Linked DNA regions of Homo sapiens. The protein of the gene in region 7 purifies or fractionates together with the protein of the main gene of each other region. This does not show direct contact. Each region holds a gene or a part of one and is shown on either strand. Other genes may lie near its edges. The genes, in order: TXNDC5, ZBTB43, PITPNA, PPIL3, PAK2, TALDO1 and ACP1.

What was found.
Region 1: the proteins of ACP1 (region 7) and TXNDC5 purify together in Homo sapiens (affinity purification with mass spectrometry, with the first as the bait; one large-scale study listed by BioGRID). This does not show direct contact.
Region 2: the proteins of ACP1 (region 7) and ZBTB43 purify together in Homo sapiens (affinity purification with mass spectrometry, with the first as the bait; one large-scale study listed by BioGRID). This does not show direct contact.
Region 3: the proteins of ACP1 (region 7) and PITPNA fractionate together in Homo sapiens (co-fractionation; one large-scale study listed by BioGRID). This does not show direct contact.
Region 4: the proteins of ACP1 (region 7) and PPIL3 fractionate together in Homo sapiens (co-fractionation; one large-scale study listed by BioGRID). This does not show direct contact.
Region 5: the proteins of ACP1 (region 7) and PAK2 purify together in Homo sapiens (co-immunoprecipitation; one large-scale study listed by IntAct). This does not show direct contact.
Region 6: the proteins of ACP1 (region 7) and TALDO1 fractionate together in Homo sapiens (co-fractionation; one large-scale study listed by BioGRID). This does not show direct contact.

What each region holds. Positions count from the first base shown.
Region 1 is NC_000006.12:7,883,903-7,886,788, forward strand, and holds part of TXNDC5 (thioredoxin domain-containing protein 5 isoform 1 precursor), read right to left. Parts: intron 2,142-2,886; coding exon 2,059-2,141; intron 587-2,058; coding exon 457-586; intron 1-456. UniProt on the Homo sapiens protein: Protein disulfide isomerase of the endoplasmic reticulum lumen involved in the formation of disulfide bonds in proteins. Can reduce insulin disulfide bonds.
Region 2 is NC_000009.12:126,808,040-126,811,539, reverse strand, and holds part of ZBTB43 (zinc finger and BTB domain-containing protein 43), read right to left. Parts: intron 3,444-3,500; exon of another isoform or gene 3,348-3,443; intron 2,748-3,347; 5' UTR 2,625-2,747; intron 1-2,624. UniProt on the Homo sapiens protein: May be involved in transcriptional regulation.
Region 3 is NC_000017.11:1,535,293-1,538,792, forward strand, and holds part of PITPNA (phosphatidylinositol transfer protein alpha isoform), read right to left. Parts: intron 227-3,500; coding exon 149-226; intron 1-148. UniProt on the Homo sapiens protein: Catalyzes the transfer of phosphatidylinositol (PI) and phosphatidylcholine (PC) between membranes. Shows a preference for PI and PC containing shorter saturated or monosaturated acyl chains at the sn-1 and sn-2 positions.
Region 4 is NC_000002.12:200,875,578-200,879,077, forward strand, and holds part of PPIL3 (peptidyl-prolyl cis-trans isomerase-like 3), read right to left. Parts: intron 1,461-3,500; coding exon 1,342-1,460; intron 1-1,341. UniProt on the Homo sapiens protein: PPIases accelerate the folding of proteins. It catalyzes the cis-trans isomerization of proline imidic peptide bonds in oligopeptides. May be involved in pre-mRNA splicing.
Region 5 is NC_000003.12:196,830,002-196,833,147, reverse strand, and holds the end of PAK2 (serine/threonine-protein kinase PAK 2), read right to left. Parts: 3' UTR 501-3,146; downstream 1-500. UniProt on the Homo sapiens protein: Serine/threonine protein kinase that plays a role in a variety of different signaling pathways including cytoskeleton regulation, cell motility, cell cycle progression, apoptosis or proliferation.
Region 6 is NC_000011.10:757,464-760,963, reverse strand, and holds part of TALDO1 (transaldolase), read right to left. Parts: intron 2,015-3,500; coding exon 1,907-2,014; intron 843-1,906; coding exon 711-842; intron 1-710. UniProt on the Homo sapiens protein: Catalyzes the rate-limiting step of the non-oxidative phase in the pentose phosphate pathway. Catalyzes the reversible conversion of sedheptulose-7-phosphate and D-glyceraldehyde 3-phosphate into erythrose-4-phosphate and beta-D-fructose 6-phosphate.
Region 7 is NC_000002.12:267,947-271,446, reverse strand, and holds part of ACP1 (low molecular weight phosphotyrosine protein phosphatase), read right to left. Parts: intron 1-3,500. UniProt on the Homo sapiens protein: Acts on tyrosine phosphorylated proteins, low-MW aryl phosphates and natural and synthetic acyl phosphates with differences in substrate specificity between isoform 1 and isoform 2.

The DNA.
Region 1 (2,886 bases), on a different chromosome or scaffold from region 7:
GACTTGCTGGCATGGCCCTTTCAGAAAGGAGGTTATGTTGAAATGATTCTTAGATTCAGCCACTGCATTTTATAATGCTGGCTTATGTGTGAAAAATGAGCGACTCGGGTATTTATGGCAAAGGCTACAGACCACTGGTCAATCATCAAGAGTCGCGGTGTGGGAAGCCCCACAGTCTATGGCGTGGGGTCTGTTACTTCACGGCCTTGTTACTCAGACAGCAAGGCCTGAAAACCTGCACTGAAACATGGATACTAACTACAAAGCGGGCGAAGAAGAATGCCTTCCCTTTGAGAGAGGATCTCTTTTGCTTCTCCAAACAAACAACTCAAAGGGACATAAAAACCACATTGTTGAGAAGATGAGAGCAGAGTGAGTTATCGTGGTTGAGGCACAGTTCCCTTGGGATCTGCCCCCATACTGAGAGCTCCCATAAGCATCCATCCAAGTACCCACCGAATACTTGCTGCAGATATTCCGTTCAGCAGTGCAGTCTACTTCGGCGATCTTGACCCCCGCCAGACCAGGGAATTCCTTTTTAGAGAGTTCCTCCCAAGTAGGAGCCAGAGTCTTACAATGACCACACCTAAGACGAGAAAAATGGCAGCTTCGTTGAAATCCTGGGTCGAGATCATTCACCTACACTCTGCTGCCAAGACAAGCTCTGTTTCTTCTGTATGGGACAGTCAACAATTGCCTAGAAATTTGTAAAATACCAAATTCTCCCACTGGGTGCACATTAACTCTTCCTCCTCCTATCCCAAATGAAGAACCCAAAAGTTGATCCAAGGTAGACTTTCAGATAATGTGACAGAAGCAAGCCAGTCTCAAAACAAGTTGAGATTCTGAGACCATTTCCATGCCATGGTGAACTGTGCTAACTGGTTTATGAAAGCACAGGAGCAGAGGAACAGGGAACAGGGCAGATGCCACACAATTTCTAAAAGGTCACTTGAATGCCAAAGACATTTTAGATTTGATTGCTTATGGTCTCACAATTTCAAAACCATTTTAAGGCCTCCTTGGTACTTCAGCGATGTGGGGTGAGCATCAAGGCCATGATTAAGTTTGGTTCAAACCCTCCCTTCTACCCGACTCTGTTCCCTTGTCTCTTCTGACCCCCTCCTGCCGTATGGATGGCTCCCCTTCAGCCAAAGGGGATCCTCCTTTTTGATACTTGATCTGTGGAGCTTTAGGTTTTTAAATGTTGCAAATGATTTGAAAGGCATTGCTATGGTTCGTTCAAGTCCTGTGCTTATTAACTTTTTACCCCTATGGTTAGTTTCTCAGGAACATGTGGAGTGTAACAAACAAGAAAAGTGACGCCTTTATCATGTTTAGATAAACAATCTACTGTTGTCCTAACACTCTGCTTTTCCAAATGGATTGTTTTATTTGTGAAGACAAAAAGTTACTCCCATTTTTCAGCTGAGGGAACTGGGGTTCAAAGGAATTAAAGGACATCCAAGTTTACTATACAGTCATTCACGGTAAGTCTTAGAACCAAGGTTGTCTGGATCTCACACTACCTGCAATCCATTTCTGCTCTGGTCTCCAAGACCACGTGGCATGCAGGTTCAGGAAACTGCGTAGCATACTGAATGGCTCTAACAGACTCTACTGGATTTCTCTACAAAAGAAATCCGAGTACTTAAAAGAACCGAGGAGCAAAGCTACATCATGACACTCATTGTTTAGCCAAAAAGAAAAGCCATCTATTTGGAAAAGTGCAGATACCACAAAACTGAATATGGCCATCATAATTTGCCTCCATTTTTATGTTTTCTCCAAAGTTGATATAACTTTAGCCTCATTCTCCATATATAATCAAAGTTGATATAACTGTAGCCTCATTCTCCATATATAATTAAGGCCATTGAAGTTTAAAATATTTGAATATAGGAGCATGATAACGGTTCCTTATTTCCTACAACATGACCTACATATAAATGTAACATGTGCCCAACATTGAGTCTGGAGGGGTGGCAGATGAGCTGAAAAACATGATGTGACTTAGTACACATGGACAAAGTAGTTTCTAATTAAACAGCCACTTACCATGGAGCATAAAACTTGATGAAGGTTATTCCTTCTGCAATGGTGTCATCGAAGTTATTTTCAGTGAGTGCCAACACAGTGCCCTTCAAGGGAGGAAAAAGCCACAGTTCAAGTACATCCCTTAAAGTTGAGCAGGGCCATGCTTTGGGATTGCAGATACACGAATCAGTAATTTTTTAAAAATGCAGTTACGTAGGCTCCAAGGTCACACAGAAATACCTACACAATCTGCATTTCATAGGCTACACACAAAGGGAGGCTGGCAGCCTCTGAAGGGCAGAGAGATCAATGCAAGTCCCTGGGTCCCAAGCCTGGGAGATGTGGTGAGGAGGTGGCTGGACACTGTACAGGGGATGAAGGTGGGGAGGGGGACTGTCTTTTGGGGATGAGGCAGGTTGAAAACTCTCCAGGGCGCTGTGGTGTGGACCAGGCAGCCCTGGGTGTCTGACACTTGAGTCTGCACCTCTAAGCCTGGAGTCTCCAGGATACCCACTGAAGTCTCATCCTCAGCCGCTTTTCTCACTGGCCACCCTATTCTCCTAGCACCCTTTGTGACATCCTCTCTATGCAACAGAAAGAACCTAGTTACAATAGCAAAGGCAATGATACCTGTTTTACATTGAACATAAAAATGGAAAGCAGCCTGTTCTAAGTCAATGTGAAAAACGCTGATGGAAGCTCTGGCTGGAGAATTTAAGGGAAAGGTGCTACATGGTAGTCTGCTTTAAAGCCATTCTCCCTTGACAGTTCTTTACAGAATGACGTCTATGTGTTTCTCCAAAAATGGATCTGCGATTCTCTCCTGAGAGCAGGAATGGGATGATTTAT
Region 2 (3,500 bases), on a different chromosome or scaffold from region 7:
ATAGGAAATAACAGCAACTACTATTTATGACATACATATACAAATATATAAACTGCTTAATACAGACATTGTACAAAGTCTATGCAAAGCACTTTATATGCTCTGTCTCACTTAATCTTCACAGCAACCCACTCAATAGGTATTTTTTACTTCCATTGTACAGAATTGGAGATAGACAAAAAAGCTAAGCAACTTAAGGTCATATAACTGGTAAGCAGTAAAATTGAGATTTAAATCCAAAGTACTTGTTCAGGCCCACTATAGCTTAAGAGGTGGAAAGAAAAGGTGAATATAATTTTTTCTTCTTTTTTTTTTTTTTTTTGAGATGGAGTCTCTGTCGCCCAGGCTGGAGGGCAGTGGTGCCACTTCAGCTCACTGTAACCTCCGCCTCCCAGGTTCAAGCGATTCTCCTGCCTCAGCCTCCTGAGTAGCTGAGACCACAGGTGCGTGACACCACGCCCAGCTAATTTTTGTGTTTTTAGTAGAGATGGGGTTTCACCATGTTGGCCAGGTTGGTCTCGAACTCCTGACCCTCATGTGATCTGCCCACCTTGGCCTCCCAAAGTGCTGGGATTACAGGCATGAGCCATCGTGCCTGGCTGTGAATATCACTATAGTTTCAGAGTATGGAAAGTAAACGTGAATATCATTTTCACAAATAATCTATATAATTTTATTATATACAATGCATTCACAAACTTTCGCACGCTGACCATCCTTAGACTTAAGATGGCCCAAGCCAGGCATGGTGGCTCACTCCTGTAATCCCAGTACTTTGGGAGGCCGAGGCGGGCGGATCACCAGGTCAAAAGATGGAGACCATCCTGGCCAACATGGTGAAACCCCTTCTCTACTAAAAGTACAAAAAAAAATTAGCTGTGCATGGTGGCCCATGCCTGTAGTCCCAGCTACCTGGGAGGCTGAGGCAGGAGAATCACTTGAACCCGGGAGGCAGAGGTCGCAGTGAGCCAAGATCTCGCCACGCGCTCCAGCCTGTGTGACAGAGCGAGACCCCATCTCAAAAAAAAAAAAAAAAAAAAAAAAGACGGCTGGGCACAGTGGCTCATGCCTGTAATCCCAGCACTTTGGGAGCACGAGACGGTGGATCACCTGTGGTCAGGAGTTTGAGACTGGCCTGGCCAAGAAGGCGAAACCCTGTCTCTACTAAAAATACAAAATTAGCTGGGCATGCTGACAGATGCCTGTAATCCCAGCTACTCAGGAGGCTGAGGAAGGAAAATCTCTTGAACCTGGGAGGCAGAGGTTGCAGTGAGCGGAGATTCTGCCACTGCACTCCAGCCTGGGCAACAAGAGCGAGACTCCATCTCAAAAACAAACAAACAAACAAATAAACAAACAAATGAACAAACAAACAAAAACCTTAATAAGATACCAGCAGTTAGTGGGCCGGGCGCGGTGGCTCACGTCTGTAATCCCAGCACTTTGGGAGGCTGAGGCCCGTGGATCACAAGGTCAGGAGTTCAAGACCAGTCTGGCCAAGATGGTGAAACCCCATCTCTACTAAAAATACAAAAAAATTAGCCGGGTGTGGTGGCCGGCACCTGTAATCCCAGCTACTCTGAAGGCTGAGGCAGAGAACTGCTTGAGCCTGGGAGGTGGAGCTTGCAGTGAGCTGAGATCCTGCCACTGCACTCTAGCCTGGGCGACAAAGCGAGACTCTGTCTCAAAAAAAAAAAGATACCAGCAGTTTTATGCCACTTTGCACATGTATTTTATTTTTTTAATCCAATAGCAACAGTTCTAAAACAAACACACCGATGCCAGCCTGTTCCACTATGCTTCTTAAAAGCTATTTGGCTTTTTTTAACGCAGATGAAGGGCAACATACTGAAGAAATCCTGAACTAGATGACCTTCAAGATTCCTTCCAACTTTGATGAGTTTAATAACAGCCACTATTTATTATTCGGCTGAGGAACTCCAAGTCAAATTTTATACGTGATTTAAACACCTATTAAACATCCTAAAAACACAGATGACAGCAATATAATAGGGAAGCAGACCCACCAGCTACTTATTGTGAAGTCCTTCAGAGGTTTCTTTAATCAGAGCATATGGTAACTTGCATGCTTACTATAGAAAGCATATTTAAACATAGTAAATGTTGCTTCAGTAAATTTAAAGCCTGGCACAAATGTACAAAAACACCAATACCCTATGCCTACTCTTTACATTAGTGAAATGCTTTAGAGTTCACAAAGCACACTATGTAAACCTGCGTTGTGCAACACTCCCGTATCATTGCATCCTTTTGAAATATGAGTAAACTGAAGCTCAAATTAAAAGACCTGCCAGTGGTTACACGTCTCAGAAATGGCATGTCAGCATTCAAACAGCAGTATAACTCCAAATCTAACATTTTTCTAAGTTAAGAAAAAAAATTCACTTGGCAGAAAAATTTATCTGACATTAAATGTTCTATCAGTGCAAAGTATGGCATTGATGGGCCTTAGAAGGTGTAACATCTCTTCAGAAGAGAAGAAAGAATCTTCTGGTCTAGAGGAATTAAAAATCTTAACAAAATACATTATTATTTTTGCTAAAAGAGAAATGATTACAGTAAGTAACTTTAAAAATGGTATCGTGATCAAGTTGATAGCTTACCTAATGCAAAGCTGTATTCCTGGGATAGAGTTCCTTATGCCATGGCCATCAAAAAGCAACATGAATAGAATGAGGAAGAAGAACCCATTTCAGTTTTGCTTCAAATTAAAATCACATTGACTTCTGGAAGGAAGAGTAACAGTGAAAATGTAAAAGAGATGCTATGTACACGTGTATTTGCTAATAAACACTAGAGATGTACATTAGCGGCAGAAAGAAAAGTAATCAAGACTGGCATTTTTGGTTATATTAAATTCCATTCTGCAACTTCATAGCTCCTGCTTTTGTATTTTTTAAAAAAACAAACTTATTTTGTAATAATTTTAAATTTTCAAAAAAACTGAAAAGATAGTGCATAACTCCCATATACCTCTCATCCATTACTGTGGCATATTCATTAAAACTAGAAAACATGGTCAATGACTATGTAATTTTGCAGAATTAATATATCCTTTGGAACAGTGCTATTGGTCTCCTGACCATTGTCAATCAGTATTCTTCCATTTTTTTCCTAATTAGAACACTTTGGCCAAATCACTTAGTAAAAACTATTTTAAGATGTTTTTTAAAAAAACAAGCCACCTGCTTTATGAAGTTTGATTCATGATTCCCTTCAATTTTAAGCCACGGCTGAATGTTTTACTTAAAAACTTCTAGGACAAACATTCTATTACAGCAAACTCTCTGAGATTCAAAAGAGAAGGTAACGTTCTAGAAACTAACCCCCCATTTATCGATCATCCTTCCATTGAATTTCAATAAAGCCAAGGAAATGTTTTTAACTGTACCCTCACGTGCATTAGAATTCAGGATAAGAAGCTGAAATCAAGAAAGCAGAAGGCAGAAACAGTACTCATTTCAAGAAATTAACAACAT
Region 3 (3,500 bases), on a different chromosome or scaffold from region 7:
CTGCATTAGAAACATACCCATGGGTACGCAAGTAACAACGGGCAGACCTCAGGCCGTCCCCAGCTCACCCCAGCCATGCCCCTCCTCCACAGGGAGCGGCCCACCCACATGCTGCCCAGCCCCCTGGCAGTGAAGGTGTGAATGGTACCTTCCAATTGGGGCCCAAGGGTCCTCGGCCTGTTTTGATAGATTTAAATTTTGCTGGGTCTTCCTCTGCCTTGTAATCCTGAGAGAAATTGTGGAATTGGGGTTGGAGGGGAGTGGGAGAGGGAGTGAGAGATGGGGAGAACAGATCTTTCATTAGCATTCACTCCATACCAGATCTTGATGCTGATGGCACAAAGCAAATATGGGAAAATGTTATAAACAAGATGTAGAACTGTTTACATTAGCCTCAGAGGAGAGTTCTATGTGATTTTCTCCGATAGGGTTTGTTTTCCATTTTGCCAGTGTGAAAGTATCACCAGACTGTCTGAGCAGGCACATATTTACCGTGTTGAAGACAGAGACTTTCAACCTGGGGTGAGCATCCAGATCACCAGGGAAGACCTTTTTAAAACACAGATTTTTGAGTCACTCCAACTAAAACCCAGTGACTGAGAATATCTGCAGGTGACGGCAGCACAGATTTGTTTTTTGTTTTTTTAAATCTCTGCAAGTGACTCTAAAATACAGCCAGCGCTCAGAATACCCGGCTGTCATTCCTTAAATCTTCCAGTGCAATCTCCCTCTGGCTTGTTTTAACAAAATCATTACTGGAAATGTTCAGTGTATGGAACCTATCCACTACTGGTGAGTCTCACTTCACAGATTTATAATGCAGTCAATTTCCTGTGTTAATTAACCACAACAAAAGTTTAATTTTCAGCTGTCCCTCTACATTGACTAATGTGGGCTCAGGAGATACAAACTTATAGCATCTACTTAACAAAAATAACAAAGATAATAAATTTCTCTCTCTCATAAAGTATTTCCCAAAGCTGAGAAGTTTTTTTTTTTTTTCTTTTTTTTTTGAGAGGGAGTCTCGCTCTGTTGGCCAGGCTGGAGTGCAGTAGCGCGATCTCGGCTCACTGCAAGCTCCATCTCCCAAGTTCACGCCATTCTCCTGCCTCAGCCTCCCCAGCAACTGGGACGACAGGTGCCCGCCACCATGCCCGGCTAATTTTTTTTGTATTTTTAGTAGAGACGGGGTTTCACCGTGTTAGCCAGGATGGTCTCGATCTCCTGACCTCGTGATCCGCCCACCTTGGCCTCCCACAGTGCTGGGATTACAGGCGTGAGCCACCGCGCCCTGCCTTATTTTTTTATTTTATTTTTTTGAGACAGCATCTCACTCTGTTGGCCAGGCTGGAGTGCAGTGGCACGATCTCAGCTCACTGCAACTTCCACCTCCTGGGTTCAAGCGATTCTCCTGCCTCAGCCTCCTGAGTAGCTGGCATTACAGGCGCCTGCGACCACGCCAGGGTAATTTTTGTATTTTTGTAGAGACGGGGTTTCACCATGTTGGCCAGGCTGGTCTCAAGCTCCTGACCTCAGGTGATCCACATGCCTCAGCCTCCCAAAGTGCTGGGATTACAGGCATGAGTCACTATGTCCGGCCGATTTTTTTTTTTTTTTTTTTTTTCAGATAGAGTTTCGCTCTGTCGCCCAGGATGAAGTGCAGTGGCACAATCTCAGCTCAATGGAACCTCCGCCTCCTGAGTTCCAGTGATCCTCCTGCCTCAGCCTCCCAAGTAGCTGGAATTATAGGCATGCGCCACCACGCCCAGCTAATTTTGTATTTTTTTTTTTTGACACAGTTTCACTCTTTTTGCCCAGGCTGGTGCAAAGGCATGATCTCGGCTCACTGCAACCTCCGCCTCCTGGGTTCAAGCGATTCTCCTGCCTCAGTCTCCTAAGTAGCTGGGATTACAGGCACCTGCCACCACGCCTGGCTAATCTGTTGTATTTTTAGTAGAGACAGGGTTTCACCATGTTGGCCAGGATGGTCTCGATCTCTTGACCTCGTGATCTGCCCACCTTGGCGTCCCAAAGTGCCGGGATTACAGGTGTGAGCCACCGCACCTGGCCCTAATTTTGTATTTTTAGTAGAGACGGGGTTTCACCATGTTGGCCAAGCTGGTCTCAAACTCCTGACCTCAAGTGATATGCCTGCCTCGGTCTCCCAAAGTGCTGGGATTACAGGCGTGAGCCAATGTGCCCAGCCTCTGAGGAGATTATATTTATGTGTGCTTTAAAAAATAAATATTCACCATCACTGCTTCCCTCCACTCACACAGATCAACCAGAGTTGACAAAATACTCAAAGAATCATACTTTTTGCTAGTATCCAGTTTGAGAAAATTCATCAAGCTGCATACTTATATTCACTTTGCTGTATATGTTAAACTTCCATAAAAAGCTTTTTGAAAAATCCACCAACGTTTTGAAGGTGGGGGTTGGGATATTGGGCAAGGAAGCACAAGATGGTTTTTATATCTTTTCGGAAATGCACAAATCAAAATAACTTTGTGTGTGTGTGTGTGTGAGATGGAGTCTCGCTGTGTCGCCCAGGCTGGAGTGCGATGGTGTGATCTCTGCTCACTGCAACCTCTGCCTCCCGGGTTCAAGCGATTCTCTTGCCTCAGCCTCCCAAGTAGCTGGGATTACAGGCACGTACCACCAGGCCTGGCTAATTTTTGTATTTTTAGTAGAGATGGGGTTTCACCATGTTGGGCAGGATGGTCTCGAACTCAGGACCTCAGATGATCGGTCACCTTGGCCTCCCAAAGTGTTGGAACTACAGGCGTGAGCCACCGTGCCAGGCCCCAAAATATCTTAAGTGCAGAGTGACCACAGGAAAGAGGTATCACACCCCTGGGATACAAAGAGCAAACACACATTCCCTATCAGTGGGCAGAGAGTTACATTCCTGTCTTTTAATCCCAATGAGGCCTCTGCCTAGTAAGAATGGTAATGAATGAGGAGGAATCTAACCCCCTCATTCCCTGAGCAAATACTTCTTGGGTGCAAAACAGTGAGCAAGCCAGACCTGGTCCCTCTTTTGACCAAGGTCATGGTCCACCAGTGGACTGTCCTTTTCCAGGGGTCTGCTCCAGTGTGTGTTACTCTGAAAAGGCGCCACCGACTTCTGGAGGGCAGGGGACCTGTCTTTCCCTGCATTCTGCATCCCTCACCTGGAACCCAGAGATCCTGACAATATTCCACAACCCAGTAGGCAGGAAGTAAATGTTTTTTTAATTACTGAGTTGGAAAAATAAATTTGAGAAGTGGTGCTCCGATTTTTCAGGCTAAGCATCATTTTAGCAGGGCAAAATACTCTAGCTACAATACCTACTTAGTCCAGTAATAATTTTCAGAGGCCAAACAGGGCACACAAATTTGGGCCACTAATTTTCTGGTGGCATCCCCAACTCAAGACAAGAAATCTCCTAATACTCACTTTTAAAAATAAAACAAGCAAGACACATCAGAATTTCCTTTTGTGCCAAGTTGGGTAT
Region 4 (3,500 bases), about 200 Mb from region 7:
TATCTTTTTTTTTTTAGAGATAGGGTATCATTGTTGCCCAGGCTGGAGTACAGAAGTGTGATCTCAGCTCATGCAGCCTGGAACTCCTGGGCTCAAGTGATTCTCCCACCTCAGCCTCCTGAGTAGTTGGGATTACAGGTGTGTGTCACCACACTTGGCTAATTTTTAAATTTTTTTTATAGAGATGGGTTCTGCTATGTTCCACAGGCTGGTCTTGAACTCCTGGCCTCAAGTGATCCTCCTGTCTCAGCCTCCCAAAGCACTGGGATTACAGGCCTGGGAAAGTTCTGTTAATTAAAAAAGGTGAATCAGCTGGCAAGCACCTTTTGTCTTTCCTCCCCTTTCCTCCCTGATACACAGAAGTTTTGATAAGAGCTGTGCTGCCAATATTATGACAGAGGCGCCTAGAACACTGGTAACAAAATGGAACCACCATGCCAGTCCATCTTGTTTAAGCCACTATTTTTCAGATCTGTTAGTTGCTGTGAAATGCTATCATTAATGAAAATGGACCAGCCTGGGCAACATAGTGAGACCATGTCTCTAAAAAAAAAGTGTTTTTTTTGTTTTTTTTTTTTTTAAAGTAGCTGCGCATGATGGTACACATTTGTGGTTCCAGTTACTCAAGAGGCTGAGGTGAGAAGATCACTTGAGACCAGGAGGTTGAGGCTGCAATGAGCCATGACTGTGCTACTGCACCATACTCCAGCCTGGCGACAGAGCCTTTCGTCTCAAAAAAAGAAAAAGAAAAAGAAAATAGATATACTATGTTAATTTGCATAACAATATTGAAAAATTACTGGCCTCTTTTACAAAATAAGGAAAATAAAGCTCAGGGAGATTATAACTTTCCCAAGGTCACAGGGTTGCTAAGTGGTAGACTTAAACTCCAGGTACGTTTAGCTCTCACACCACTCTTCTTTTCTTTCTTTTCTTTTCATTTTTTTTTTTTTTTTTTGAGGCAGAGTCTCACTCTGTCGCCCAGGCTGGAGTGCAATGGCATGATCACGGCTCACTGTAACTTCCGCCTCCCAGGTTCAAGCAATTCTCCTGCTTCAGCCTCCTGAGTAGCTGGGACTACAGGTGTGTGCCACCACATCCAACTAATTTTTTAAAATATTTTTAGTAGAGACAGGGGTTCTGCCACATTGGCCAGGCTGGTCTCGAACTCCTGACCTCAGACAATCTGCCCACCTTGGCCTCCCAAAGTGCTGGGATTACAGGTGTGAGGCACTGCGCTCGGCCTCACTCTTTTCAATATTAGTTATGCTACTGTCACAGCTAAGCATATGCACCACTTGCATTGAAATGCTAAAAGAAAACCATAACCAGAATACTCACTTTCCAAATACGGTGTATTTCATGTCCAAATGTGGCTGTTTGCCATAGGTGATGAAGAACTGAGATCCATTGGTGTTCGGGCCATTATTAGCCATAGATACAACACCTCTAACATTGTGCTGAAAAAGACACATCAAAGTATTAACTGTGTTTTTATATAACCATCCCAAATATAGTATTGAAACAAGACAGGCACACCTTTGTTTTCTTTTTTAAAAATATTTTGAGATTGGGGTCTCACTATGTTGCTCAGGCTGGTCTCTAACTCCTAGGCTCAAGTGATCCTCCTGCCTTAGCTTCCAAAGTGTTGGGATTACAGGTGTGAATCAGCACACCCAGCCAAGACATTCAATCTTTACCTTCACAATATTTAAGGGAGCAAGAAAACATTTAACCAACTTCTCTCTATTAGGGATAATCCAAATGTTCAGTTTCTGCCTTTTCTGTACCTTTGAAAACTTGTATGTAAAAGGTTAATATATCAAATAATATTTCTCAATTAATTTCATTTTCACTTTGAAGAAATACAGCCATGGACACTTTTTGCAATACCAACAAATAATAGAAATAATCCTTACATTTATATTAAGGAATAGTGTGCTGGAATGAAATGATCAGGCAGGCAACAAAACCAAAATGCCCACAATCTCTTCTCACATACAATGGACTCTTGCTAGTTTCTTTATCTGTAAAACAAGGGAGGCTGGACTAGTTCAAGGGTCTATTTATAACTCAGATGCTCACAAGGGTCAAGCAGATAAACTGACAATTGGGCAGAATGTAAACATTAGAGAGAGATGAAGTCTGGCAAAATGAATAGGCTATCTCTTGATTAATGACATTAAATATATATTTTTTAACTAAGGGCCACAGATAATGCATCTGTGGGTGTTCCACTCATGGGCAGTCAGTTTATAACCCCAGGACTGAACGATCTAAGAAAGGTCTCACCTAGCTCTACTATCATGATAGTATTTGTTTACAAGAGACAGTGTATAGAAATTAAAAGGACCTTACTGATAAGAATGAAGATGTAACTGTGAACTATGTTACAGGGAGGTGCCTGTAATACACTACAACTCCACCAATTACTCTAGCTTTAGCTATTCATTGGGTGACGCTAATAAGTCATAGAGAAGCACCTATATCAAAATATTAATGCTTGTCTCCCTAAAAGGTGTCCACCAATCAAATGTAATATTAAATACACATGTAATATTTAATACATACACAATATTTAATACATACACAAAAATATAGTTAATAAAAATGTAAGTTAATAAAATAAGCACCCATTAACATATTTCCCAGCTTTCAGAGTTAAAATTTACCAATTCATTGAATAATGGGAGCTCAAGAAAAAATAAAAGTTACCAATTAATTACATATATCCATGTGCTCCTCTCCATTTATTACCTCAGCCTCTACAAGAGGTAACCACTATTCTAATACCTTTTTTTTTTCATTTTTTCATTTTTTTTTTTTTTTAGAGACAGGGTCTCACTCTGTCACCCAGGTTAGAGTGCAGTGGTGCAATCATAGCTCACTGTAGCCTTGACCTCCTAGGCTTGAGCAATCCTTCCACCTTGGCCTCCTGAGTAGCTGAGACTACAGATGTACACCTCCATACCTGGCTAATTTTTTAACTTTTAGTAGAGATGAGGGCTCAATATGTTGCTCAGGCTGATCTCAAACTCCTGGCCTCAAGTACTTGTTCCTCTCACCTCGGCCCCCTAAAGTGCTGGGATTATAAGAGTGAGCCACTGTGCCCAGCCCTAACACATTTACACATGCCTAAACAACACATTCTTTCCTTTTCCTTCTGAATATAATTACATCGTAACATTTTAGTCTTCTGGGAAATGCTTTCTACAAATAACATTGTTACATTTCTAAGGTTATACATGTACATATAGCCATAGTTTATTACTATTTTTTTACTACTATGTGATATTTCACTACTGAATATACTACAATTTATCCACAATCTACATAGTGATTCATCTACAATCAGTGGACATTTGGGTTGTTTCTAGACTTTTGCTATTACAAACAGTACATCAGAACACTCCTGTACATGTCTCTTGGTGCAAACTTACAAGTTTCTCTTGAGTAAACATTTGGGAATGGAATTCCTGGGCCAGAATATATGAAGAGTC
Region 5 (3,146 bases), on a different chromosome or scaffold from region 7:
TTTTATGCTTTTTGATAGTAAACCATTATTGTGGCTGTTCCCTATGTTAGGGTACCTAAGATTCCAAATTAATTCACATAATGAAGTGATGCCTTACGACGTATTGCACTCTAAAAGGTTTCTTGGTTCACTTAACACAGAAATTCTGATCAGGTTTTTATTACTCCAGCAAGGTGTGTGTTCAAATCAGAACTGTTTCCCTGGGTCTGATAGAGAAACATTGATAAAGAAAATTATTCTGAACTTGATTTAGAAAGGGAAAACTTCCCCTAACTACTCAGGAGGCCGAAGCAGGAGAATCACTTGAACCTGGGAGGCAGAGGTTGCAGTGAGCTGAGATGGCGCCACTGCACTCCAGCCTGGAAGAAAGAGTGAGACTTGTCTCAAAAAAAAAAAAAAAAAAAAAAAAAAGGAAAACTTCATGTTTACTGCCCACACATTTCTAGAAACCTTCCTACTTTGGAGCTTTGTAATAAATTCAAAATGATGGCACAACACCATTAAAAGGTTTAAAACATTTATCACTAAAAATACTAAATGTTCTTTGAAAACCTATTAAGACATTTAAATATTCTTTTATGCTATCAAAAGACATTAAAATATTCTTTTACGCTGATCAAAAGAAAGAATAAAAGTTTAGGAAAGGGAAAAATGCACACTTTTTTTAAAAAGTTTATTTCTAGCCCTGAAAGAACAAAATTATTGAACAAAGTCAAAATACAGCAGTTAATGTCAATGTATAACAATTAAATAATTGAACGGGATTAAATTAAAAATAAAAGGCATAAAATTTGAAGACAACAGAAAAGACAAAAACTACTTTTGCTTAATTCCATTTCTATCAAAACAAGAAAAAAAAAGCCAATGCGTTCCAACCAAAGATGTTGAATTCCACACGTAACTGTTTCTCTTATTACTTCTGTTCTCTTAGAAACACTTCTAAGTTCTAAGAGAACAGAAGTGTGCTTGACAGAACTATCATCCATTTCTTTCTGCCTCTGTCTTGGCAGCTTTCTAGAGAAGTGAATGGGAAAGACTTCGGTTCTTTCAAGGCCAGGCCAGCGCTTGCTTCTTCTTTCGAACTCCAACCTCATCCACCACAGCATCTTTGCCAGAGTGTTCAATCAATGTGTTGACTGAGAAAAAAGAATGTGTGTATCTATTTTTTCTTATATACACACACTATCAAAAAACTGATTTTACCAGTTTCAATACCTACTGTGGGAGCAGCGGAGACAGGAAGACAATCTGCTTTTTGTATTACTATGAAGTTCCACTATAAAAAACCCCAAATGAGTATTAATCTGGATTTTAGCTATAATCTATAATATTTTGACACTGACATTTCACTAGATGTGGATCTCAGTATATTTTAAAAGATTTAGACTCAAAAATGGATGCAAATTCTTTAAGCATCTATTTTGTTTTTTTCTAATTTTAGCTACTACCTGATCAGATCTAAAATTATTCTGGCTAGAATACAGTATATACAAACATGTATTTAAGTGAGCCCTAAAAGAAATACTCATAGGTGGTTTAGAATCGCTTGTTAGAGGCACAGGTTCGTTTACAGTTGCTGGTTACTAGACTGTACGCAGCTGGACACTTCTATGTTAAAGGGAAGAGAATGAATACTATGTGCCAGGCAGTCAACACATGAAGACAGAGTTGTATTAGCCTCAGTGTCTTATGCTTCACAATTACTCGTTTACTTTCAGGTAGGATAAAATGTTCCATGTTTCATAGTTTCCCAGTTTTAATTGTCCCTAAAAGCAGCAGAAGAAAAAAGAAAAAGAGAAGATAACTTTAAATCTAAAATAAAATAAATAAGTACTATAATAATACTGTCCTAATAACACAAGAGGACTATTAAGGTAACTTTCAGATTTAAATGGGAATTTTCATTCTAAAGTGATGACAAAAAGGGTAAATATAAAAGGCAATTATTTAAAAAACATGAGGCCAGGTGCAGTGGCTCACGCCTGTAACTGCAGCACTTTGGGAGGCCAAGGTGGGCAGACTGCCTGAGCTCAGGAGTTGGAGACCAGCCTGGGCAATGTGGTGAGACTCTGTCTCTACTAAAAATACAAAAAAATAGCTGGGTGTGGTGGCGGGTGCCTGTGGTCTCAGCTACTCAGGAGGCTGAGGCATGAGAATTGCTTGAACCCAGGAAGCGGAGGTTGCAGTGAGCTGAGATCATGTCACTGCACTCCAGCCTGAGTGACAGAGTGAGACTCTGTATCAAAAAAAATAAAAATAAAAAACATGAATCTTGATTCAGATATAATTTTTCTTTCAACAAGTTCTGAATGTTTTAAAATTAATAAATCACAATTCTGTATTACTTTTAAGATTGTTTAAAAATGACACATTTCAAAATTAACCAAAGTATATTTCTGTTAGAGGTTAGTTTATCCACGTAACTTAAGAATAAACCACAGCGTAGCTCCCTTAACCAAAGAGCCAGGTTTTAATGACAAGTCAGTTGCCAGCAATGGACGTGCAGGTAACTATCGAAGAAGTCGCAACTACAAATCCCAAACTGCTTCTATCAATGGAAAAGCCCTTTGTTGAGTCACAAGCCTGAAACGAGGCGTTGGCACATAGTCAGTGAGGATGGTCTTTGACTTAGGAGGGAAGTGCCTCTGAGTACATGAGGATCACAGTCTTCTCATCTCGTTGGTTTTCTATTTCATTGGTAGCATCTTCTTTATCATAATCCATCCAACTGTTTACAAAGAATGGTAAAATTTGGAACTCAGGTGGCACTGCAGCTTTCTGCCAGAAATAAACCAGTTTCTATAATTCAGTAATAGCTGTAGAAGGCCAATATATTCCAGAGAAAAATGAAATCAAGAATTATATTGAAAACAGAGACCATTAAGTGCTCTAAATATGTTTCATTAATTATTTTACTCATTTTTCTGAAAATCTTGCCTTATCAATAAAAAACAGTCACTTCTCTCCTTATAATTGCATCTTATCATAGATATAGTGGAAATAAAATAATGGAAATAAAACCTGCCAGTTTCTCCAATGTATACTACAACAGCAAAATTATTTTTTATTCATGATTTATACTACTGCAGGATGGCAAGCAGGGGGGAAGTTAATGGGGGAAGGGGATGGTGGGAACAAAATGCCAG
Region 6 (3,500 bases), on a different chromosome or scaffold from region 7:
CGCCTCCTGGGTTCAAGCAATTCTCCTGCCTCAGCCTCCTAAATGGGACTACAGGTGTGTGCCACCATGCCCGGCTAATTTTTTATATTTTTTAGTGGAGTCGGGGTTTCACCGTGTTAGCCAGGATGGTCTCGATCTCCTGACCTCGTGATCCCCACGCCTCGGCCTCCCAAAGTGCTGGGAGCCACCGTGCCCAGCCTAAAATTTCTTTATATTTTTGTAGAGACAAGGTTTCACTTTGTTGCCCAGGCTGGTCTGGAACTCCTGGGCTCAAGTGATCCTCCCATCTCAGCCTCCCAAATTGCTGGGATTACAGGCATGAGCCATCTTGCCCAGCCAGCATATATTTTATATAACAATAGTTTACTTTTTAAAAATCATGTAAACATAGGCTTGTGTTGATCAGGACAGAGGAAGGACAGAATCTGAATCTGCAGGTGCTAACTAGTGGCTTTTCTTCTCTGCTGAGTGGGTGGATGGTACTTCCTGGGAAATCCCTCATTTCTGATCACCAGCAAGTGAGGGAGCTGGCTCTGGAGCAGAGGGCAGATCTAGGCTGACATGAGCTGGTCAAGTCCAAGCTGTGGGCTGTGCTCCCCAGTCTGGCATTCCCCAGGGCTGAGAGAGTCAAACTTGCCTGATGCCATGTAGACCCTGCTCCAACAGAGGAAAAATCTCTGAGAGCTCCTTCCTTGTGGGGGACCACTTACTTTCCAGCCTGAATTCCTTCCCAGGTTGATGACAGCTTTATAAGAATTCGGTCCTTGCTGATCCCAGCTTCCTTGTAGAGCTCGATGAGCCGCCTGGCTCTGGCCACCATCGCATCTTTATCAAAGGAGAGCCTGTAGGAGCAAGAAGAACCCATCCCCTCAGATCACGCAGGTTGCCCACCACGCAGAGCAAGCTGGAGGCCGGGTGTCTGCCTGTCAGTTTTGAGCAGCACCACCGTGAGCACCAACCACTGCCCTCAACCTTCCCCTCACTGGAGGTTTGCAGAATGGCTCTGACAGCAACTCACACCCAGTCTCACAAACAGAGGTCCTCAGTGGGATCCATAGGCTATAATTTGTATTAAAAAACACTGGGCCAGGTGCCGTGGCTCACGCCTGTAATCCCAACACTTTGGGAGGCTGAGGCGGGAAGATCACAAGGTCAAGGGATCGAGACCATCCTGGCCAACATGGTGAAACCCTGTCGCTACTAAAAATACAAAAAAATTAGCTGGGTATGGTGGCGGGTGTCTGTAGTCCCAGCTACTTGGGAGGCTGAGGCAGGAGAATCGCTTGAACCCGGGAGGTGAAGGTTGCAGTGAGCTGAGATCACACCACTGCACTCTACACTGGCAACAGAGCGAGACTCTGTCTCAAAAAACAAACAAAACAAATCAAAACAAAAAACACTAGCAGCCGGGCACAGTGGCTCATGCCTGTGATCCCAGCACTTTGGGAGGCCGAGGCAGGTGGATCATGACGTCAGGAGTTCAAGACCAGCCTGGCCAAAATGGTCAAACCCCATCTCTATTAAAAATACAACAAATTAGCTGGGCATGGTGGCAGGTGCCTGTAATCTCAGCTACTTGGGAGGCTGAGGCAGAGAAACGCTTCAAGCCGGGAGACAGAGGTTGCAGTGAGCTGAGATTGCGCCACTGTACTCCAGCCTGGGTGACAGTGCGAGACTCCATCTCAAAAATAAATAAAAATAAAAATAAAAAACACTAGAGATCAGTTGCTAAACAAGGAGCTCTTGGTCATCACTACCAACTGTGGGAGAGCTCAAAATAAACCTCCTCTTGGGCCCTTGGGATGAAGACCATGGGTGGAGCAGCCCCTTGACCTCATGTTGGCATCCACGTGTGCAACTGTGGACACCTGACCAGCCCATCCAGTGCAGGAGCAAGCATCCTTACCTTGCGTCTACTTCTGTGGATACTCGGCCCGGAATCTTCTTTAGTATTTCTGCTCCAAACAACACAAAAAGTTTATCAATAGCATTTTTAATCTGGTCCTCTTGTGACCTGAAATTCAAAGGGAAAAAAAGCAGGTTAGAAGCTTCTGAGGTTCGCCAGGTGCGGTGGCTCACGCCTGTAATCCCAGCACTTTGGGAGGCCGAGGTGGGCGGATCATGAGGTCAGGAGATCAAGACCATCCTGGCTAACACGGTGAAACCCCGTCTCCACTAAAAATATTAAAAAATTAGCTGGGCATGGTGGCGGGTGCCTGTAGTCCTAGTTACTAGGGAGGCTGAGGCAGGAGAATGACGTGAACCTGGGAGGTGGAGCTTGCAGTGAGCAGAGATCGTGCCACTGCACTCCAGCCTGAGCGACAGAGCGAGACTCCATCTCAAGAAAAAAAAAAAGAAGCTTCTGAGGTTCAAGTGCACAAGACTCTACAAAATAAATTCTGTTATTTCTTTGCCAAATTTCCTTCCCTCCATCTTTTTTTTTCTCTTAAAACATTTTTTTATTGTGGCCAAATAATACATATAACATAAAATTTCCCATCTTATCCTTTTTTTTTTCCCCCAAGACAGGGTCTCCAGCTAAGGCTGGAAGCACAGTAGTGTGATTATGGCTCATTACAGCCTTGACCTCCCGGGCTCAAGTGATCCTCCTGCCTCAGCCTCCCAAGTAGCTGGGACTACAGCTGCACACCTCTATACCTGGCTAATTTTTTTGTTTTGTTGAGATGGAGTGTCACTCTGTCGCCCAGGCTGGAGTGCAGTGGCACAATCTCGGCTCTGCCAGCTCTGCCCCCCGCGGTTCACGCCATTCTCCTGCCTCAACCTCCTGAGTAGCTGGGACTACAGGCGCCCGCCACTGTGCCCGGCTAATTTTTTTGTATTTTTGGTGGAGACGGGGTTTCACCGTGTTAGCCAGGATGGTCTCGATCTCCTGACCTCGTGATCCGCCTGTCTTGGCCTCTCAAAGTGCTGGGATTACAGGCGTGAGCCACCACGCCTGGCCCATGCCCAGCTAATTTTTATATTTTTTTGTAGAGACAGAGTTTTGCCCTATTGCCTAGACTGTTCTCGAACTCTTAGGCTGAAGGGATCCTCCCATCTTGGCCTACCAAAGCACTGGGGTTACAGGCGTGCACCACTGCCCCCAGCCCACCATTTTAAAATGTATTCAGCACATTCACAGTTCTGTACAACCATCACCATCCATCTCCAGAGCTCTTTTCATCATCCCAAACTGCATCCCTCTATCTTTTGGCACTTGCAAAATATTATATTTTCTATCTCTTCAAAGTTATTGGACAGACACCCAGTGAAGTCCATGATTCTGTTCCAAAATCTGAGCAGCCTTGTTAGCCCACTACACACAGGAAGATCTTCAGCTAGACGCTCAGAGGTTAGAATTCTTGGGCCAGACTGGGTGCAGTGGCTCACGCCTGTAATCACAGCACCCTGGCAGGCCAAGGTGGGCAGACTGCTCAAGCTCAGGAGTTCGAAACCAGCTAGGGCAACATGGTGAAACCCTGCCTCTAAAAACAAATACA
Region 7 (3,500 bases):
GGACACCCTCCCACCCCTACCCAGTATACCAAAACGTGCATACTCAGGTCCTATAGTTGGCCCCTGAGAATGTGGAGCCCAAGTATAGGAAAAGTCAGCCCTCCATACAGATGGGTTTCTCATTCAGACAACACGGTATTTTCCATCTGTGCTTGATTAAAAAAATTCCTCGAATAAATCCTTCAAAGTTCAAACCCCTGTGGCTGAAGGGTCAACTGTATGTATTTTCAAGTATATCACACATAAGGATGACTACTGTTTCACAAAACAATACACAAACACACAAACATGCATTTAAGCATAAACAGCGATTCAACACCAACATTTACTGAGCGATCACATGCAAAGCCCTGAGCCCAGGGATACAGATCCAGGCATTAGCAGCCCAAGGTCAGGGACACCACTCTCCAGACCACGATGTCGACATCAGGGCCATCCTTACTTTAGACCAGCAAGTGAGAAATCCAGGTTCCCCAGGGCTCCCTCAGGTTTGATAATTCCCTAGAATTACTCCCCAAACTCAGGAAAGCAGAACACTTACCATTACAATTTCATTATAGTAACAGCAACAAAAACAAAAACAAACAAACAAACAAAACAGCCAAAGCAAGTGACCTATAGGGCACATTCTGGGAGGTTCCCTAACAGGTAGCTCCACTGTCCTCTGGGACACCTTACTCTCCTGTCATCAACATGAGACAATATTCAAAGAGCACTGCCAACCCAGGAAGCTCCTCAGAGCCATAGTGCTCTGAGGTTTTATTGGGGTTTTCGGAGGGAGACACAATGGGTTGAATCACTGGCCATTCAGCTGAACTCTATCTCCACTTTATTTATTATATTTATTATAATAAAAGTGGGAAAATGAATGCTGATAAACAATACACTACAGCAGCACAGAAAAAGAACGATGCTACAAAGCAAAAACAAGATATAAGAAAATTTCTTACCAGAAAAAAGAAAGATTAGAGATGATATTAAAAGGATGATCAGGATCTTAATGGACAGAGGAAGGGAAAGGCATTTAACTCAGAGGGATTGTGGCACTAAGCAGGTGAGGCTGCGATGCTTCAGGTACAGAGAGCCAGTGTCTGGAAACTGACGGGCTGGTATACAGGAGCCCTAAAACACTGGGCCAACATTTGAACTTTGCGTAGCCACTATGAGGAGAAATAGAAAGTCCTATGGAAAAGGGTAATATGACTTATTCAACAAACATATTTTGTATGCCAACTCTATGTGCCAAGCACTGTGCCCTAACCTGAAGACAGAAAGTTGTTTAAAACACAGACCCTTCCTACAAGTTACCAAAATTACCGGCACAGCTAAGGAAACACTAGAAGAGCACATGACTGAATTGGAGAGACCTTGTAAGAGGCTCGTATGAAGGAGCAAATACAAGACAGTGTCAGAGTGGAAAGGTGTGGCAGCTTTCCTCACCCATCATAAAGGTCATGGAAGATACTCCTGTAACAAAAGACAGGTTAACAAGAGCCTTCAGAAATGAAGACCCAAAGACCCAGGGAAACGGTTTTGATGCTTAGATGACCAATGCACAGCTGTGTAGAAATGGCACTGGACAAAAGGAAATGATCCAATGGTAGCAGACTGAGGGAAACCCAGCAGGGCCACAGCATTTCCTCCCCCAGGAATGAGGCAGGGCCCCTCTGAAATGCTGTCTTCAAGAGAAGGCAAAAGGGAGAGAGTGATCTTTCTAGGTTTTATGGCTTGCTTTGCAGGAGAGGAGTTCTAGTTTCTATGATCTGCGCTGGGGAAGATAAATGATGGTTTCTACGACCTTGCTTCTGGGGCTGCTCTGAGGCCTTCCAGTCTCCTTAATGCCAAAGCACCACACTGAGTCCAGACATTAGGAGCTGAATTTAGGAAACAGATACGAAAAAGAGGAACTGTGAGAATAGGCAGCACTAACTAAGAGTTTACTCTTTATCACTATTAGGGTCTTCTGTTTATGATAAACAAATACAATGAGGATCTTCTAGTGTTGTAAAACACAGCTAATTCCCTAGTTCAGAAAACCAACTCACTGCCTTACTACAGCCTTCAGTTTCTACATTGTAAGACCTAAGCATATTACGTACTTTTTTCCCACAGAGACTGTAGTTTCCACAGCAGTAAAAAATCTTACCTACAAACCATAAAGGGAAAGACAACAAATTAGCCTTGAATACCCTCTATATGCTAATTTGTGTTGTGAAGTTTTTCCTTTCGACATTCTAAATTTTGTTTAGTTTTCTAAACAGGTATTGTCATCAGCACTATTTTAATTATTGAAAGGCTTCCCATGGGTGTGTAACTCTTTTACTTGTCACCATATACCCTGGGAATATTTTTAACAGCAAACATTGTATTCCAAATTAAGACAATTATTATTTTGGATCTGTAGAACAACAGATGCCTAGTATCTCAGCATCTAAAAATATAATAAAGACTAGCCCCACACGTTTACAAATAATTATCTTTAACTGTAAAATAACAGCTTACTTTCCCCACAACAATATGAAAACTTGCATTATTAACTGTCCTAAAGGCTAGCAGTAGCTTGCCCTGTTGATTTCGAAAGTTGATGCCACCAAATTTTGTTATGAAAAAATGGAGCACCCCGGTCATCAGTGAAACACTGCATGTACTTCAGGTTTCGCCTATCAAACAAGTTCTAAAAACAGAACATTCCATCTTCAAATGCCTTTAAAAAATGTTTCAATCTGTAAAGTCTCAAGTTTGTCTTTTCCAAATTAGGCAGACTATTTTATACCCTTCTTCAGCATCTTCAATTCAAGGATGGAGACTCATAAAAGGCAGATAGGCTCTGGGAGGGTGGGGCTGTGTCTGCTATACCTGGTAAGAGACCCAGCACCCAGTATGGGTGTAGCCCAGAAGTAAAGTGACTCCACCAGCATGTGCTATCTCCACCAACCATGCTGGCTGGGTCATGGCTCCTGCATCATCTTCACTAATAAGTCTCTATTGCAAAAACATAAAGCACCCTTCATAATTGTGCTGTAGTAAGGAGCTCAATTATTTTCCATCATTAGCTTCACCAATGAAAAACCTCTGATGCTTTTCTACACTTCAATCTCAATAGGGTCCAAACAAATGCTTTGAATGAACAAAGTTTTTTACATTTCAAAAGCATACAACTCTTACTGTCCTCTATATGGCTACCAAGTAAAATGCCATTTACCGCTCAAATTCCCTCAGAATGCAACCAGTAAAGGCATGCTCCACCTCCAGTTTCATCTCAAAACAACAGCTGAAACTCTTCTTTTTTAAACTTAAATTTGATCACTTCCCACCTCTGCTCAAAACCCTCCAATGTTTATTCAGAGTAAGCCCAAGTCTTCACATGGCCTCCCAAGATCTGGACCTAAAACAGGGGTCTGAAAATCGGCTCATGGTCCACTGCCTTTATGTACAGCCCACAGCGGTAAGAATAATTTTTACATTGTTGAGTAGTTGGAAAAAATCTAAAAGTAGAGTAC